Linked DNA regions of Homo sapiens: regions 2, 3 and 4 are each reported to be linked to region 1. Evidence: microRNA targets listed by miRTarBase, many of them from high-throughput screens and not tested one by one. Region 1 holds a microRNA gene; each other region holds the end of a gene's coding sequence.
The links. Region 1 holds the annotated microRNA hsa-miR-4662a-5p (UUAGCCAAUUGUCCAUCUUUAG, at 1,781-1,802, shown strand). A microRNA usually pairs through its seed, bases 2 to 8, with sites in the 3' UTR of a target mRNA and lowers its output. Matches are read on the target gene's strand: a 7mer-m8 pairs with bases 2 to 8, a 7mer-A1 pairs with bases 2 to 7 and ends in A, and an 8mer does both.

Region 2: the mRNA of NCBP3 is a reported target of hsa-miR-4662a-5p. Seed matches in the 3' UTR shown: 8mer at 2,684-2,691 and 7mer-A1 at 35-41.
Region 3: miRTarBase lists API5 as a target of hsa-miR-4662a-5p. Seed matches in the 3' UTR shown: 7mer-m8 at 1,830-1,836.
Region 4: miRTarBase lists FAT3 as a target of hsa-miR-4662a-5p. Seed matches in the 3' UTR shown: 7mer-A1 at 2,121-2,127.

Annotation. Positions count from the first base shown.
Region 1 is chr8:124,820,210-124,824,661 of GRCh38, forward strand. It overlaps MIR4662A (microRNA 4662a), which reads left to right and starts at 1,776; the gene lies at 1,776-1,842. It overlaps MIR4662B (microRNA 4662b), which reads right to left and starts at 1,849; the gene lies at 1,769-1,849.
Region 2 is chr17:3,809,524-3,813,523 of GRCh38, forward strand. It overlaps NCBP3 (nuclear cap binding subunit 3), which reads right to left. Exons shown (of 13, transcript NM_001114118.3): 13 at 1-3,756. The coding sequence ends at 3,521. Among named protein-coding and RNA genes, the nearest start is that of ITGAE, 10 kb to the left of the region's middle. RefSeq lists an enhancer at 3,367-3,872.
Region 3 is chr11:43,341,865-43,345,864 of GRCh38, reverse strand. API5 (apoptosis inhibitor 5) reads right to left here. Exons shown (of 14, transcript NM_001142930.2): 14 at 1,336-3,437. The coding sequence ends at 3,355. Among named protein-coding and RNA genes, the nearest start is that of TTC17, 15 kb to the left of the region's middle.
Region 4 is chr11:92,890,699-92,894,698 of GRCh38, reverse strand. FAT3 (FAT atypical cadherin 3) reads right to left here. Exons shown (of 28, transcript NM_001367949.2): 28 at 1-4,000. The coding sequence ends at 3,586. Among named protein-coding and RNA genes, the nearest start is that of LINC02746, 23 kb to the left of the region's middle.

The DNA of each region.
Region 1 (4,452 bases):
CTTGGCTCACCGCAACCTCCACCTCCTGGGTTCAGGCAATTCTCCTGCCTCAGCCTCCCGAGTAGCTGGGATTACAGGCATCTGCCACCAAGCCTGTCTAATTTTTTGTATTTTCGTAGAGACGGGGTTTCTCCATGTTGGTCAGGCTGGTCTCGAACTCCCGACCTCTCGTGATCCTCCCAAAATGCTGGGATTACAGGTGTGAGCCACTGTGCCCAGCCTTTTCATTCTCTTAATAGGGTGTTTTTCAGAGCAAACATTTTTAATTTTGATGAAGTATCAAGATGCCTCAATTTTTTCTTTTATAAATTGTGCTTTTGATTTTAAGTCTAAGACCTCCTTAACTTAGCTCTAAGTGCTAAAGATTTTCTCCCATATTTTTCTCTAAAAGTGTTGAAGTTTTATGTTTACATCTAAGTCTGTGATCTATGTTAATTTTTGTATAAAGTTTTAAAGTATGAGACTTAAGTTAAAACAAGAGATTTTGTTTTGTTTTGTTTTTTGCTCCAACACCACTTGTTGAAAAGAGTTTCCTTCCTTCATTCACTCGCTTTTGCACTTTTGGTATTTTTGGTAAAAAATCAGTTGAGTATATTTTTGTGGGTCTATTTCTGAGTCCTCTATTCTGTTTCATTGATTTGTGGGTTTATCTCTCCACCAATATCATACTACCTTGGCAACTGTAGCTATATAGTGAGACTTAACACAAGGTAGAGTGCTTCCTCCTACTTTTTAAAATAGTTATCACAGCTATTTTATTTTCAAAATTTTTGCCTCCCATACAAATTTTAGAATAAGCTTGGCTTTGTCTACAAAATCTTTTTGGGATTTTGATAAGAATTGTGTTAAACTATTGATAATTTGGGAAGAATTGACATCTCCACTATGATGAGTCTTCCAGTCTATGAACATGGTATTTCTCCTCATTTATGTAGGTCTTTATTTTTTCATCAGCATTTTGTAATTTTCATCAGAGACATAGTATATGTATTTATACCTAAGTATTTTATTTTCTTTGAAGTGATTGTAAATGGTATTGTTTTTAATTTCAGTTTCCCCATGTTCATTGACAGGATAAACAAATGCATTTGATTTTTGAGTGTTGATCATGTATTCTGTGACCTTACTTAATTCACTTATTAATTCTAGGAGGTTTATTTTAGTTTATGTTTTTTAGATTCTTTAGGATTGTATAAATAGACAATCATGTTATCTGCAAATAGAGATGATTTTATTTCTTTCTTTTCAATCTGTATGTCTTGTATTTCTTTTTCTTGCTATATTGCACTGGCTAGAACTTCTACTACCCTGTTGAAGAAGATGTTGAAAGCAGACATCTTTGTCTTATTCCCAATCTCAGTGGGAAGACGTTCAGTTGGCACCATTAAGTATGATGTTAGATGTTTTTTTTTTTTTGTAAATGCTTTTTCACAAATTGAGATATTTTTCGTCTGTTCCTACTTCAGTGAGTTTTTTTGAAAAATAGGGATCATACTTTGCTTTCACAGGATTGCTGTGATGATTCTAGGTGAAACATAAGTAAAAGTTTATGGCTGTTGTGGGCCCTCAAATAAGGTTTAGAAAAACAACCTTTGGACAACATTAAGGCGAGTCATTACAACTTAAAGTGAAACCTTCTGTAGACAAATGATCTCACATCTTCACTTCTAGGTATCTCTTCTGAAGAAACATTGGCTCATGTCCCAGAGATTTATATACAAGGAAGTTTACTGCAACCATGGCTGCAACAGAAAAAGCCATTGTGTACCACAGTGTCTATTTAGCCAATTGTCCATCTTTAGCTATTCTGAATGCCTAAAGATAGACAATTGGCTAAATAGAAATTGTGGTACATCCATACAATGGAATACCATGAAGCCATCGACAAAACATCAAGATTCTATTGACCAACATGGAAAGAGTGCCATGGATGGGCACGGTGGCTCACACCTGTAATCCCAGCACTTTGGGAGGCCAAGATGGTTATATCACCTGAGGTCAGGAGTTTGAGACTAGCCTGGCCAACATGGCGAAACCCTGTCTCTACTAAAAATACAAAAATTAGGTGGGCATGGAGGCAGGCACCTGTAATCCCAGCTACTCAGGAGTCTGAGGCAGGAGAATCGCTTGAATCTGGGAGGTGGAGGTTGCAGTGAGCTGAGATTGTGCCATTGCACTCCAGCCTGGGCAACAAGAGCAAAATCTCAAAAAGAAAAAAAAAAGAGAGAGAAAAAGTGCCAAGACACAAGGTTAGGTGAACAAAGGAAGTCTCAAAACAGAACAATTTGATTTTATATTTATAAATGGCATAATATATAAATATGGCTTATAAATTTATACTTATATCTACATACATATAGTATATAAGTATGTATTTTTAAAACCCAGTCATATATTGTAAACACATTCCTAAGTGCATAGAAAAAGGCCTAGAAGGACTTGACACTCATTTGTTAACATCGGACATCCTTCGGGAAATGAATGGGATTGGGTAGAGTACAAAGGGGTACAAAAGATCACTTTAAAAAACTTTATAAATATATTTGGTCTTTAAAACATTTTTTTACAATGATAATGTTTATATTTACTATCTGTTTACCTAAATAAGACTCAGGTAGTATGGGGCAGGGAGTAGCAATTTCTAGTGGTAAAATTTCAGACAATTGTTTTCCATAGTCACTGGGACCCAGAATTCCTGAGCTCTCTTTGTTCTATTGCTGGCTGCAATATTAGTTGTATGATTTTGGACAAGTCACTTTCTCTCTCTGGGCCTCAGATTCCTCTTGTAATGAGGAGATTAAACTAGAGTACCCATGGATAAGCATTTTTATTATTCACATTTAAGCATCTGACCTCTCTTTGCAAATAGGTTTTTGTATGTGGAACCTTTATGTATACAACAGAAGAAAGCATGTCAACAACCCAACTATTTGTACCCCGGATCCATTTCAGCACTAACGTTTTCTGACTGGAGTTGAAGGCAGTGAACCCAAAGCCACCCGTCAGAACTATACTGCCCCTCAGCTGAGTGAAAAATAACTGGGTGATTTCAAGTGACCCACAGAAGCTCAGGAGTGACAGTTGCTCTCATAAAATGTGTTCCCTGAGCATTAAGCCCTGGTGTTGGCAGGGTCTGATAGCTCAGGGACTGTTTGAGCTCCAAGGAGATCATTACTGTTTCTAGAGAGTTCTATGAGGACCCTGGGTCTTTGGAAGAACTATCCATTTGTGGTTTTTAGGAGAATCAGGTCCTAGATCACTGAAGCCACAGCCCATGGCCCAGAGCTGTAGCTTTACTGCTTTGGGGCTGCAGCAGGGAGGCGAGGCCACCTGGGGAAGCTGAGGGCAAGAGTAGAGGTCAAGTGCAACACACAGCATGCTGTGAAATATGAGAAAGGCTCATAGTGTCTTTTCTTTGAAATGAAAAGCGCCATCTCGAGTTCTGTGGAATTGGGTCCAGCCTTCCTTGGCTATAACAGGCATGATAAGGATCATTTTGCCTCCTTTAGGAGCAGGGCTAGATGTCCTACAATTCTCTGCATTAGTTGAGCCCATGGACAGTAACAGCCATAGTCTGAGATATAAAAAAAAAAACAGCACATCGCCCAGAAAAAAGCCTGGGCCCTGTGCTTTTGGGATTCTATTCGCACGTGTTTCGGACTGGCAAGACTCAAACCCAGAAAGAGGGACTCCCTGAGAGGGGAAAGGCGGACGTGCAGGGCCACTCTGGCCTAAGTCTTCTCTGTGGATCGAAGCAGAAGGTAGGAAGCCGGTGTTTTATACCTCCCTGCCTTTCCCTGCCCATTTGTGGGATGGAGAGCTGGGGGCCTGGGTGAATGACCTGTTGTAGTTCAGGTCCACACTCCTACCAAGGCACACCAGCATGGAGGGCGGGAGACCTGGGCTCAAGCCCCAGTTGGGCCACTTTCTCATCGAGGCTAGTCACATGCCTTTGCAGGTTCTCAGTTTCATTGTTTTTAAAAAGACCATTAGATTAGATACTTTTAAAGGTCCCTGCCAGTAACACTCAGTGATTCTAGAACTAGATTGTAAGAGCCTGGCAGGGTTCCACTTATTTGGTAAGAGGAAAGGAATAAGCTATAATGGTTAAGTGTGTGGAAACTGGAATTAGATTTCCTGAGTTCAACTCCTGATTCTCCTTTACTTACTGTGACTTTTGGAGAAGGTTTTTAATCTCTCTGAGCCTCAGTTTCTACATTGGCAAAATGAAAATAAGAGCTGTAGTTGATGTTGTTGTTTTAAGGGATGCAAATGATAATCTGAATGAAGCTTCAGGATCCAACAGAGTAAATGTTCAATAAGCCTTATCTTATTGTTTTGTATTTCCCCAGTTTAAGATCATAACAGGAACTGGCTAAAATTACTTCTTGATAAAACAATGCCCCTTACCATAGATTCAATTATCCTACAGGCCAAATCATGTGCCCCATG
Region 2 (4,000 bases), not on the chromosome of region 1:
GGTGAAACCCTGTCTCTACTAAAAATACAAAAAATTAGCCAGCGTGGTGGCACATGCCTGTAATCCCAGCTACTCTGGAGGCTGAGGCAGGAGAATCGCTTGAACCCCGGAGGTGGAGGTTGCAGTGGGCCGAGATCGTGCCATTGCACTCCAGCCTGCACAACAAGAGCGAAACTGTGTCTCAAAAATAAATAATAGAAATAGAAATATATATATATAGCCCTAAAGTAGAAACAACTCAAATGCCCATTAACCAATGTGGATTAAAAAAAAGGTGGCATACCCATAAAATGGACTATTATTTGGCAATTTTAAAAAATGAAATACTGATAGAAGCTATGACATGGATGAACCTCAGAAATATGTTAAGAAGCCAGTCACAAATAGACACATAGTATATGATCCCATTTATATGAACTATCCAGAACAGGCAAATCCACAGAGAGAGAAGGAAGATCAGTGGTGGCCAGAGGCTAAGAGGGAAGAGGGAATAGGGAGAATTGCTAATGGACTCAGGGTTTCTTTGGGTGATCAAAGTGTTTTAAAATTGATTACGGTGCTGGTGCATAACTGTAAATATACTAAAAGCCACTCAAGTGTACACTTTAAATGGCTGAACTGTATGCAAATTACATCTAAATTAAGCTGGTAACAACAACAAAGGTTCATCCCGCTGCAGTGTGCAGAATGGAGACAGGGCAGAGACCAGTGAAGAGGCTGCTGTACAAATGCAGCTGGAAAGGGCAGTGGCTGAAGAACGGAGAGGGGTTCACAGGATCAGACTACAAGGGGGCCAGAGGAGGAGACTACATCCTGAGGACGCCACAAATTATCCTGGGTACCTGGTAACTCTCCAGAGAGGAGAGTGGGAAACAAATGAGGTATCTGCAATTATCATCAAGCAGCAAACATGTATGTAAAATCTCCTACACATAAGACTAAGAGGAACACACAAAGTGTGCAGCCCTGTGCCCACATGTGTGGGGAGTGTCCAGGGTAAAATCACGCCCAGCTGCCTGCCACGGGCCTGTCCTGACTATCCATTCTTACTCTTAAACTCCAAAGAAAAGGCCTCATCATTCAGGACACACTCAAGATGTTGCAAGATCTGAGTGACTGAGAGTGGGCAGGAGGGTTAGAGAAACTAATAAGGCCAGTAACTCCGAGAAGTAAAAATCTTTAAAGCTGCCTTTCTGGGTTCTCTCTGTGTGTCTGTGAAAACTGTAAGGTTACTCGAGTGTGTATTTCTCTTGGTTACATCAAAGACCCAGTTTTGACTGCACACCACCTCCTTCCAGAATGGCTTCGCTGATCTGTAGCAGGAGACTGCTGAGTGCTGAAAGGCCGTGGAACAAATGGACCTGAGCTGCTGGTGTAAAACCAAAAGGAAAGTCTGTGAAGGAGCATATTCTAAACCCTGCAGAGGCATGCCAGCTGGGACGCTGACCACAAGACATCTTTGCCCCGTCAGTAGAAGCAGAGACTGTGCTGGGATGGGAATAAGCCCCTGTCTACACCTCATGCGCGCCCTCAGTTGTCTCCCTGGCGCCTCCTCCACCTGCAGTAGAAATTCATGCTGGCGAGCCCACTGCCGTCACAGCTTGGGAAGAGTAAACCGCCACTGAGATGCACCAACAAAGCCAGGAATTCTGGTAACAGCCCACTCAACTGCTAGACGGGAAAACTGAGGCCCAGGTCCATGGAGCAGAGCCAGGGGTTGGCATCCAGGTGTCCGATTCTCAGGCCCCCGCACTCCTCACTCTACCAACTCCCCAAACCCTGACCCTTCCTAAGAACCTGGCTCTCAGCTGTATGCTTCACAGGGAAAGAAAAGCTGAGAAATCTCAGATGTCTTAAGTCTCAACTGGCAGAGAAACCAGAACCATCTCTTTCCTAGAATCCTAATAAGAAGCTGAAATATATCATGGTTATATCCTCTAATCTCTCTAAAGGGAGGGAGAAAAAGCAAGGTTAATCAACAAAATATGGGACAATACAGTTTTTGTTGCAGCTCTCAAATCTTGCAGCCCTTTACTTCCTTTATTAATAACAGTGTTCTGCATTAATTCGTGCCACAGTGTAATCAACTATCAATGTGACCATTAGCTCCGCCACAAGTAAAGATCGACAGGATCCAGGCTGCACTGTGTGCACAACAGCCCAGGCAGGTGAAGAGTCGTGACATCGCAAAAAGGACCACGGTTTATTACCATCTCTAACGCCCATGTTCCAGCAAACCGAAGAAAAACACTGTTTCTTAAAACTGCAGAGGAATACAAAATTAAATACTACAAAACAAAAATCAGACAGGAAGACGAAACAATCTACCTCCTCCTAATGGTAAAATAATCTGAAAGGAGTTTAAAAATAAATGAACTAAAATTTTTATAACTATTATCTTTTCTGCCAATTTTGAAGATGTCTTCAGGTGCCACAACGTGGGGACAGAAAGAATAAATATCAATGTATAACTTCTAGAGTGATAATAAACAACAGGACCCCATCTCAGATGGATGGATTTTTTTTCCTACTGGAGCCAAAAAACAAGCTGAACTCTATGTACAACAGACAGACTATACAACTAGGAGCATTTAAAAATAATAAGACTCCTCTCTCTGCCTTCTTCCAAAGAATAGAATATATATTTAACAGCACAAAAGACGACACCACTTGAGCTTCCCCTTTAGCCAACAGGAAGAATTTCCACATATAAAAATTAAAAATTTAAACTTTCAAATCATTCATGTTTTAAACATAATACAGACTTAAAAATTCTTCAACATTGACCCATAATCCCACCCCAGCACAAAAATCAACCCCAAATCCAGACGTCACAGTTTTTTGTTCCTAAAAATCCCACAGCACTGAACTTGATCTTCACATCAAGCTGACAGCACGTAAGAGGCCCATGCCATGAGCAATCCCCGAGGGAAGAACGGAAGCACAGTCAATGCTGCAGCTCTTATCTACCTGGGCGGCACTGGTGCACCTCTGAGGTCAGGTCCGTGAGATTCGCCCCACACTAGGGTCCCGGAAGGGTGAGCTGGCCGCTTCCCTCCTCTTCCCCCTCGAAGGATGTCCAATAAGCACCTGGGAATTGACTTTTCTTGGGAAAAGGGTGCTGGTAACAGCTGTCAGGGCCAAGGCAATAGTGAGAAGTTCAGTTCTCTGCTCTTTGGATGAACTGTGTAAAACATTTCTTTTAAAAGACACAATGTTAAAAATATTAAGAAAAATGTCTACAAAATCTGGAGGGCTGCCTTTTTCTCAAAGGGTAAAGCCTGTGGGGTGGTGGGAAAGGAATCGAGGGCCCAGAACTACAACTCTGCAGCGAAAGATAGAGATGCCCTTGAAAATGTGTCACATTCTTAAGATGTCTTGCCGAAGTAGCAAGAGCGGAGGGTGACTGTGTGAGCAGGAGCGAGAGGGCGCCAGCTCCTGCGGGGGAGGTTCCTACTGCGCGCCCCACCCTGTGCAAGAATGTCAGGCTTTAGGGCAGCTGCCATAGGCCCCAGGGGCATCAGGACTCTGCCTCTGAACCAGAGCTGCTTTCCCGACTAACTTCAATCTGGAGAGATGGTAAGTTATCTAACCGGCTCTTCTTTTGGCGAGACTGCTCTTTCTCCTTAATCAGAGCCCCCCATGCCCTTTGCAGCTCAGAGTCGTCTTCCTCAGCGCCAGGCGCCCTGTGATCCACTTTCTTCGTATTCTTTTCTTTGGTCTTGGGTGCAGATCCTAGGCGAGTCCATAAATTACCTGTTTGGATGAGATGGCATTTCACTTTCGCAGTCAGCGCTAAGAACCAGGGTAGCACTGAGGGGGCAGCAGCACTGCCAACACCTGCTGTGCAGGAAACGCCAGCAGTCTGTGGAGCCTGCCACCACAGTGCAGCCTTGGGCAGGCAAAATCTCATTTCCCGGGCCGCAGCCCCTGCCCGCAAACGGAAGGGTCTGGACCCAGCACGGGATTCTCACCGTGGGGGGACAGGTCAGGTCCCTCC
Region 3 (4,000 bases), not on the chromosome of region 1:
AAAGCCATGGTAATGTTTTTGGTTACTATTCTGAAACGGGGAGCCAGTGAACAATTTCTGGCAGAAAAGTAGATGTCTCTTTGCTGCTGGGTTTCAAGCAGATTGTAGAGTTAGGTGTAACGGCAGGGAGATCAATTAGGAGGTTATTACGAAACTCTAGGCAAGAAATAATGGGGAAAGAAATTTGGCATTCCTTAGCATATAGATAGTATTTAAAGCCATAGGCCTGGAAGGCCGGGAATGGTGGCTTATGCCTGTAATCCCAGCACTTCGGGAGGCCGAGGCTGGTGGATCACCTGAGGTCTGGAGTTCGAGACCAGCCTCGCCAACATGGTGAAGCCCCGTCTCTACTAAAAATACAAAAAATTAGCTGGGCGTGGTGGCGGACACTTATAATCCCAGCTACTCGGGAGGTTGAGGCAGGAGAATCGCTTGAACCTGGGAGGCAGAGGTTGCGGTGAGCCAAGATCACACCACTGCACTCCAGCCTGGGCAACAAGAGCGAAACTCTGTCTCAAAAACAAAACAAACAAACAAAAAAAACGCTATAGGCCTAGATGTGATCACCAAGGGAATTTAGTTATCTTATCCTGATCCACTTAAACCCCAGCTTTCAAACACTCACAACCAACCTTAGTGCTACTTCAGGAATATTTTCATAAAGGCTGGCAGTTAAATTACTAAGTTCCAACTTGCTTTGCACATTATCTGAAGATAGAAATGATTTACTTAATGATGATTTGGCAATTATCTGATGTTTTGCTTTAATAAAAAAAAACCAAATCCTTTTTTTCAGATTAGCTCCTAAAAATAAATTCAAATAAAAACTTTCAAGGATCAAAATTAAAGATGATTTACAAAATTATATCAACACTGAACTCCTCATGGGCCGGGGGCGGTGGCTCACGCCTATAATCCCAGCACTTTGGGAGGCCAAGGCGGGTGGATCACGTGGTCAGGAGATTGAGACCATCCTGGCTAACACGGTGAAATCCTGTCTCTACTAAAAATACAAAAAATTAGCTGGGCGTGGTGGCGGGCGCCTGTAGTCCCAGCTACTCAGGAGACTGAGGCAGGAGAATGGCATGAACCTGGGAGGCGGAGCTTGCAGTGAGCCGAGATTGTACCACTGCACTCCAGCCTGGGAGACAGGGCGAGACTCCGTCTCAAAAAAAAAAAAAAAAAAAAAAAAGACTGAACTCCTTGAAGGCAGAGAGCAGTTCTTGTCCATCTTTATATTTTCAGCCTATTGGCACAGTAGAAGCAATCAATAAATGTTAATAACTATCCAAGAATCTGAAGTTACCATAATTATAACACATCAAGACACAAAACAAAATTACAAAAGGAAATTTATTTCAAAAGCATAAGGGGACATTTACATTTAAACAAGATGATAAACAGGTGTCTTGCAAAAGAAAAAAATCCATGGCATTAAGTTTTTCATTCAAATTCGGAAGCAAAAATAACCTAAGTTGTGCACTATTGCCTTAGGAAAGGGAAGGGGAAGGGTGAGGGATAAGGGAACAGTCAACTCAGTATCAAACTTGAGAAAGTAAAGTCACTTCTGCTCAGTTCTGAGTTTACAAATATGCTTATAAAGACAAAAAGTGGTAAAATTATATTTAATGTTCAAATTTATTTAGCTGTAGTCTCTATAATTTCTGTACTTGAAATGGCTTTGGGCCACTGGCTGATCTATCTCTGAGGTCCAGATTAGCTGGTCAGTTTTCAAATGGCAATTTTATATTCCTTTGTTCAGATTCCAAGGGAGTTTAGGTTCAGCTCATGGTCTTTTGGAATGTTTAGAGATTATTGCCACCACTCCATAGCCAAGCTGACCAACTTTTGCTCACTTGTATCATTCTAGCCTTTCAGAACTATTTTCCCCATACACATGTGCAGTAATTCTAATAAAGGAGTTTTGCTTCTTCTGCAGTGTAGAGGTAATGGTAATGAAGACACCTGCATTGGAATCACAAACTATTCCTCAGAAAAATACATCAGACTACTAGAAATGTCATTCAGGCAGTTGATTTGAATAGCAAACTTGGGGAGGGAAGATTAACTGTGAAACAAAAATATACGAAACATTCAAATGCAGAACAAAGGGTCTATCCTACTAAAAATGCCCATGACATTAAACACTCCACAAACCCCCCATCTGTTGTTTTAACCTAAAAATTCTATTGGCTAACTTATACAATAATTTTGATTAATAACCTGAGAAGTTAAAATCTTGAAAGTGGCAAAAGCAAACCGAGAGAGCATCCCTTACTTATTGGTACCATGTTATCAAGTCACTTTTTCTGGGTAGCCCTGGTTATTAAATCTCCAAATTGTAAATTATACCATCTCTTCCTGTAGAAACCTGTATGTACATCAGATTCAGTATTTTGGTTGTTATTTCACCAACAGCAATTCCAATTTATCTTTGAAAATGCAGCCTTTATTCTTAGTTTTAAATAACAATAATCATGTAAGTGCAACTAACTTAGAATCCCTTGCTACTGGGAGTAAAAACCTAAATAACAAGTTAATAACGGATTCAGCCTCAAAAGGATAATCACCGTGTCAGACTACCCGTTCCTGGAATTTAAAAAGTGATTTATGTTGTGTAGTCAAGTTTCACAGCATGCATATATATATATATACACACACACACACACATATATGCTTATGTATGTATGTATATTATACATACACATTTCTATTCAAATAGTAAGATTCCATATTCAAAAGTTTGTATCACAATATATGGAAAAGAATTAAGTAGGCGGTGCAAAGCAACTTACTTTCTCCTAAAAATGTAATGTCATTCCTATATTTTAAGAAAGCTATGTAAGTATTTTGCTTTTATGACACTAGGTAGGAATGCTGCACCACTGCCCAGCAGCTTTATTAAACAATTAAAACAAAATGTTAAGATTGACCATTACTCTTCTCCATATATTGGGTAAAAAACTAAGAGGGAAGAGGAAAATCAGTAACCTTTCAAAACTGATGATCTTTATCAGCAGAACTAGACTGAATTTCATTACATTTTAGAATGAACAGCTCTCAACAACAAATTATCAAGATGTTTAAAAGATTCACAATTTGAAGTCTGAATAATGATACTGCAAAAACAAGTCAAGATTGCAGACAAAGCATCCAAAAATATCACTGTGGTTTTACCTTGGACACAACCATGGTCTGTTACAAAAGTAGGTCATACATACAAAGGTATAAAGAACATTAAGTTTTTAGCTGAAGGCAGCAGTCTGTTTAAAGGGACATCCCCGGCAATCCAATGAGTAGTAGAATTTAAGTATATTAAGCTCATGACAATGCTGAAGAATGCTGATGTCTTATTCAGTAGAGTCTTCCCCGACTACGATTTCCTCGTGTGCCCCAACCTCGGCCACCTCTACTTCCCCTGAAGGCTCCTCTCTGCTCTACGAAAAAGCGAACAAGGGTTTAGGTCTTGCTTAGGATTTCATGGTGCAGCAAACGCAGAAGAAACGTAGCTCATAACTCTGAATACAGCAGTAGGCCCTATAAGAACAGAACTAATATTCTGCTATTCAATCTACAAATTTAGCCTGTACATAAAACAAGAACAACATATATACTGAAGCACGTAAGGCAAGGTACCGACTACATTCATGGTAGTTGCTTAATTAAATGTATCCCAGTAACAAAGTTGTTTCAAGGTGATGTTACGATAACTACACTTTTTTTGGAGGGTCTTGCTGTGTTGCTCAGGCTGGAGTGCAGTGGTGCGTTCACAGTTCACCATAACATTGAACTTCTGGACTAGAGTGATCTTTCTGCCTCAGACTCCCCAGTAGCTAGGGCTACAGATGCACACCACCATGTTTGGCTATTTTTTTTTTTTGTAGAGACAGGTCCTCATTTTGTTGCCAGGCTGATCTCAAACTGCAGGCCTCAAGGGATCGTCCTGCCTCAGTGCTGGGACTACAGGTGTGAGCCACTGTGCCCAGCCCGTACACTTTTT
Region 4 (4,000 bases), not on the chromosome of region 1:
CTGGCATAGACTAGAATGCAGCAGCAAAATATTCATAGAGGAAAGGGAATAAATGAAGCATGCATTTTATTCACCTTTTATTACTCCCAAGTTCTTGCTTACTATATGACGAGCACCAAGAGTCTAGCTATTCTCAACCTAACCAGAATGTGTGCAATACTAGTAAAGTGCCTACAACAGATTATGGGAAATGGCTTCCAGGAGGTGGCACATACATGTTCGAAAAATGAGAAAGACATTAATTGATTTAAATAGTTTCCACATGGTTCATCATGGTGGAGGGGGTAGGACAAAGAGTAGCCAGTGTTTGTGGGAAGAAAAAAATGCAAAACCAAAACCAAAAATGCAACCAGTAGGTAACAGTATAATCAAAGTTTCACTACAACTGATGACTGGTCTGAGCTGAACTCTGTAATTATCATTTCATCCCTATTATACAAACATTCATTTGGCAAAAGCAGCATTTCGATGAATGTCTACAGAAATGTATGAATTCTATAACCCCTCTCCCTAGGGGGACTGCAAGGAAACATAAGATCATGAGGCTTTCAGAAAAATATTCTCCATGAATTTTCTTTTATAGCATATTCCAAAGAAGGAATGGTGGAAGTCAGAGGGTCCATCAGAACCAGGTGACTCCCATGCTCAAGGCAGTGTAGGGGTGAACAATATGATGTAAAAAGAATATTGGCTAGATGGATGGGTTCTACTCCTTGTTAAGCGAATTAACTTCCTCTGTGGGCTTGGGCAAGTCTCTTTCCCACTCTGGGTATGTTTCCTCTTTGATAAAATAAGGAGTTTGGACTAGCAAATAGGATTCTTCCAGCTTTTTTGAATTAGTGATCATCCCCACCTAGTAGCATCTTGGCCTGACTGCAAAGCATTTCATAATCTACAGAGAAATCTAACTTTCCAAAAAGTGAAGAGATATCATGTGTTTAAAGATAATAAATCAAAACACAATACATGCTTGCCTGGTATATATTTAGCTGCAGAGCTATTCTGCAGAAAATCAGGGGATGATATCCCAAAGAAAGAGATATTTTATATAGGTCACAGCAAAGGGTGGGCACAATTTTCTTCAGTGGCTTCATGACTGCATTAGGATCTATTTATTCTTTCATTACTGTGTCAGTCAGGCATTCTCCCTCAAAGAGATGCTGTGTAAGCAGTAGGGACTCATCAGCATTAATCTCATTCTAATATTTCCTGGGGGCAGGAAATGACATGTTGGTTTTACTTTGATGGTTTTTATGTCATTGCATTACTTAAAGTGTAGCAGTCACTCTATTCTAGGCCATTAGTTTGTCATTTTTTTCCATGATTCTTGCAAATGTGCTTCTTACATAAGAAAAATACCAAAGACTTTGTTCTCGAAAGCAGCCTTAGTGAAATTCATTTATTTCAAGATCACAGTGTGGATAATACCTCCATGAGTAGGTCTGACCAAGAGACAGGAAGAGAAAGGCTGGAAAACTTGTGAAGTGTAGTGTATCCACTTACTTAGAAAGTTTGGGAATGAAAAAGGATTTTTTTTTTTGCATAAACATTCAGAAACACTGACTCATAAAAAAGAAGTGGATTAAACGCAATTGAAATAACTAAAAATATGTCTGAGTGAATAATGCACAGACTAGGGACAGTACAATTTACACACCAATGCCATATGTCATCAGAAACTGTGGACACAGATTTGCTCATTAAGCAGATAGTGCAAATATGCATATATTTACCATGGCCACTGCACAGGCGGCCGTAATCTGATTGAAGCAAAAAAGGAAAGTCCCTCAACCTGTCAACTTTCAGTTTTGAGGACTGGATTGTTATATTTCCAGTGGAATGATTCTCCTGTTAATTTTGGAAATCATGGCCAAAGCCCACAGATGAGAAGGGAATCCCAGGGTGTAATCAAACATTACACACTTTTAAAACAGAGGTAAGTTCTGGAAAATTATAACAAAATACTGTTTTTAAAAAGCACAGTTTTGGGCTGGGCACGGTGGCTCATGCCTGTAATCCCAGCACTTTGGGAGGCCACGGCAGGTGGATTACGAGGTCAGGAGTTTGAGACCAGCCTGGCCAACATGGTGAAACCCCATCTCTACTAAAAATACAAAAAATTAGCCAGGCGTGGTGGCACACACCTGTAACCCCAGCAACCTGGGAGGCTGAGGCAGGAGAATCGCTTGAACCCAGGAGGTGGAGATTGCAGTGAGCTGAGATCATGCCATTGCACTCTAGCCTGGGTGACAGAGCAAGACTCTGTCTTGAGAAAAAAAAAAAAAAGCACAATTTTGCTTTATTGGCAGTACCAAAATAAAGTTAACTGAACCAGAGTAAAATATGGCATTTGATGTTTCTCTAACACCATAGAGATCAGAGAAATTGAAAGGTATGCCATGCTCGCCGGCAGAATTTTCAACATGGTCCATTTCCCAAAACCTTCACATTAGCTTTCCTCAAGAGCAGCCTTACTGAGTGCAAGCACATATTTGTACATAGGCCCAGACACACACACACTATTATAATTTATACACAATAACTAGTCTACTTTCCTCTTTTCTTAACATAATTGTATTTATAATGGTGATGCTACCGATTTAGAATAACAGACACCTTTCCTCTGCATTATGAAGAATTGTGATTATCTAGGCCGCAAACTTTGAAGGTATCGTTTTTTCTTTTTTCCCCCCTGAATTTGTGAGTTTTGCTTAAACTTCTAAAAATATCTAATTGTAGAGAAGCTATATGAACAAAGCCAACTTCTGTAGCAATGTTAGATTTACCAACTGGAATATTTACCAGAAAACACAAAACCAACCAGATAATCACATTCTTTCTAATGTTCAAACAACTTTAACTTCCTCCCCCACCCACCAAATGGAACCCAAAAAGCCTCATGTTGCTCTTCATTGATACCTTTCTTGAAGATCATAAAACCCAACTATATTAGATTGGATGCTTAACACAAACAAACAGAAATAACTGAGCATACTAAACATGTTATTCAAGCCTAATTTTATAGCTGAAAATTGGGCAGCTTATCAAAAAAATAGAGTTGATTTAAAAGGCTTCAGCCCATTTTCTGGTTTGTTTAATAATATTTGTTTCTCTTCTCTTTCGCCTAAGAGACTAACTTTTCCAACAATCATTACTACTATTTTCATTTCATTGGCTCAAAATTACATGCAACAATGCCTCTTTGATTGTTGCCAGTTTTTAATACTGCAAGGACTGATGCTGTAACACTTTCCAGGGCACAATACTGCACAAAGCCATACAAGACTGGCTGTATAACTTAGTGGGTGAAATAATTTTTCCCTCTTTGCATTTTTAGCTGTGAACATAGGTACCTACATCAAGGATTACCAGTCACCTCTCAAAAACAATTTCTGAGCCTTTCATTTTCACCCAACTGGAATCAAGCTTGCTTGTTGGGACAGTATGACTTGTGAAGAAGTTTCTAGTGGAAAAATACAGTATTCCCTTCTCATTCCACAGACAATGCTCCACTGGGACAGAAGCCCAGCCAATCTGCTTCCACTTTTCTGTAACAAACAGGGTGAAGTACCCAAGATGTGATGTCTACACTTGAGTCTGATGCTGAGTCTCCACAAAGGGAATGTGAAGGCTGGCGAGGCTGAGCTCTCCCACGCTCTCGTAGTCACTCATGGCTACTTCGGAATCGTCAAAGCCGCAGTTGGCAGACACATCCGAGGATGAGGTGCCTCTGGAATTGTGCAAGGACAGAGACACGCTGTCTGCTGGGCCTGTGGGCTCTGTGCCCTGGTTCATGCTCACAGCAAAAGTACTAAATTCACAGCTGGCAGGCGGGCCCACCAAATCCGTTTCGTTGGGGAATGGGTGAGGAGGGAGATACTGGCTAGGATGAAACTGGGGCCTTCTCCTGCAGTCTGGGCTCAGTGTGCTGGCCAGGGAGACAGGCTGGGAGGGTGGCAGGGCCTCATATTGGTCTGGGAAGTCCTCCGGGAGAGGAGGA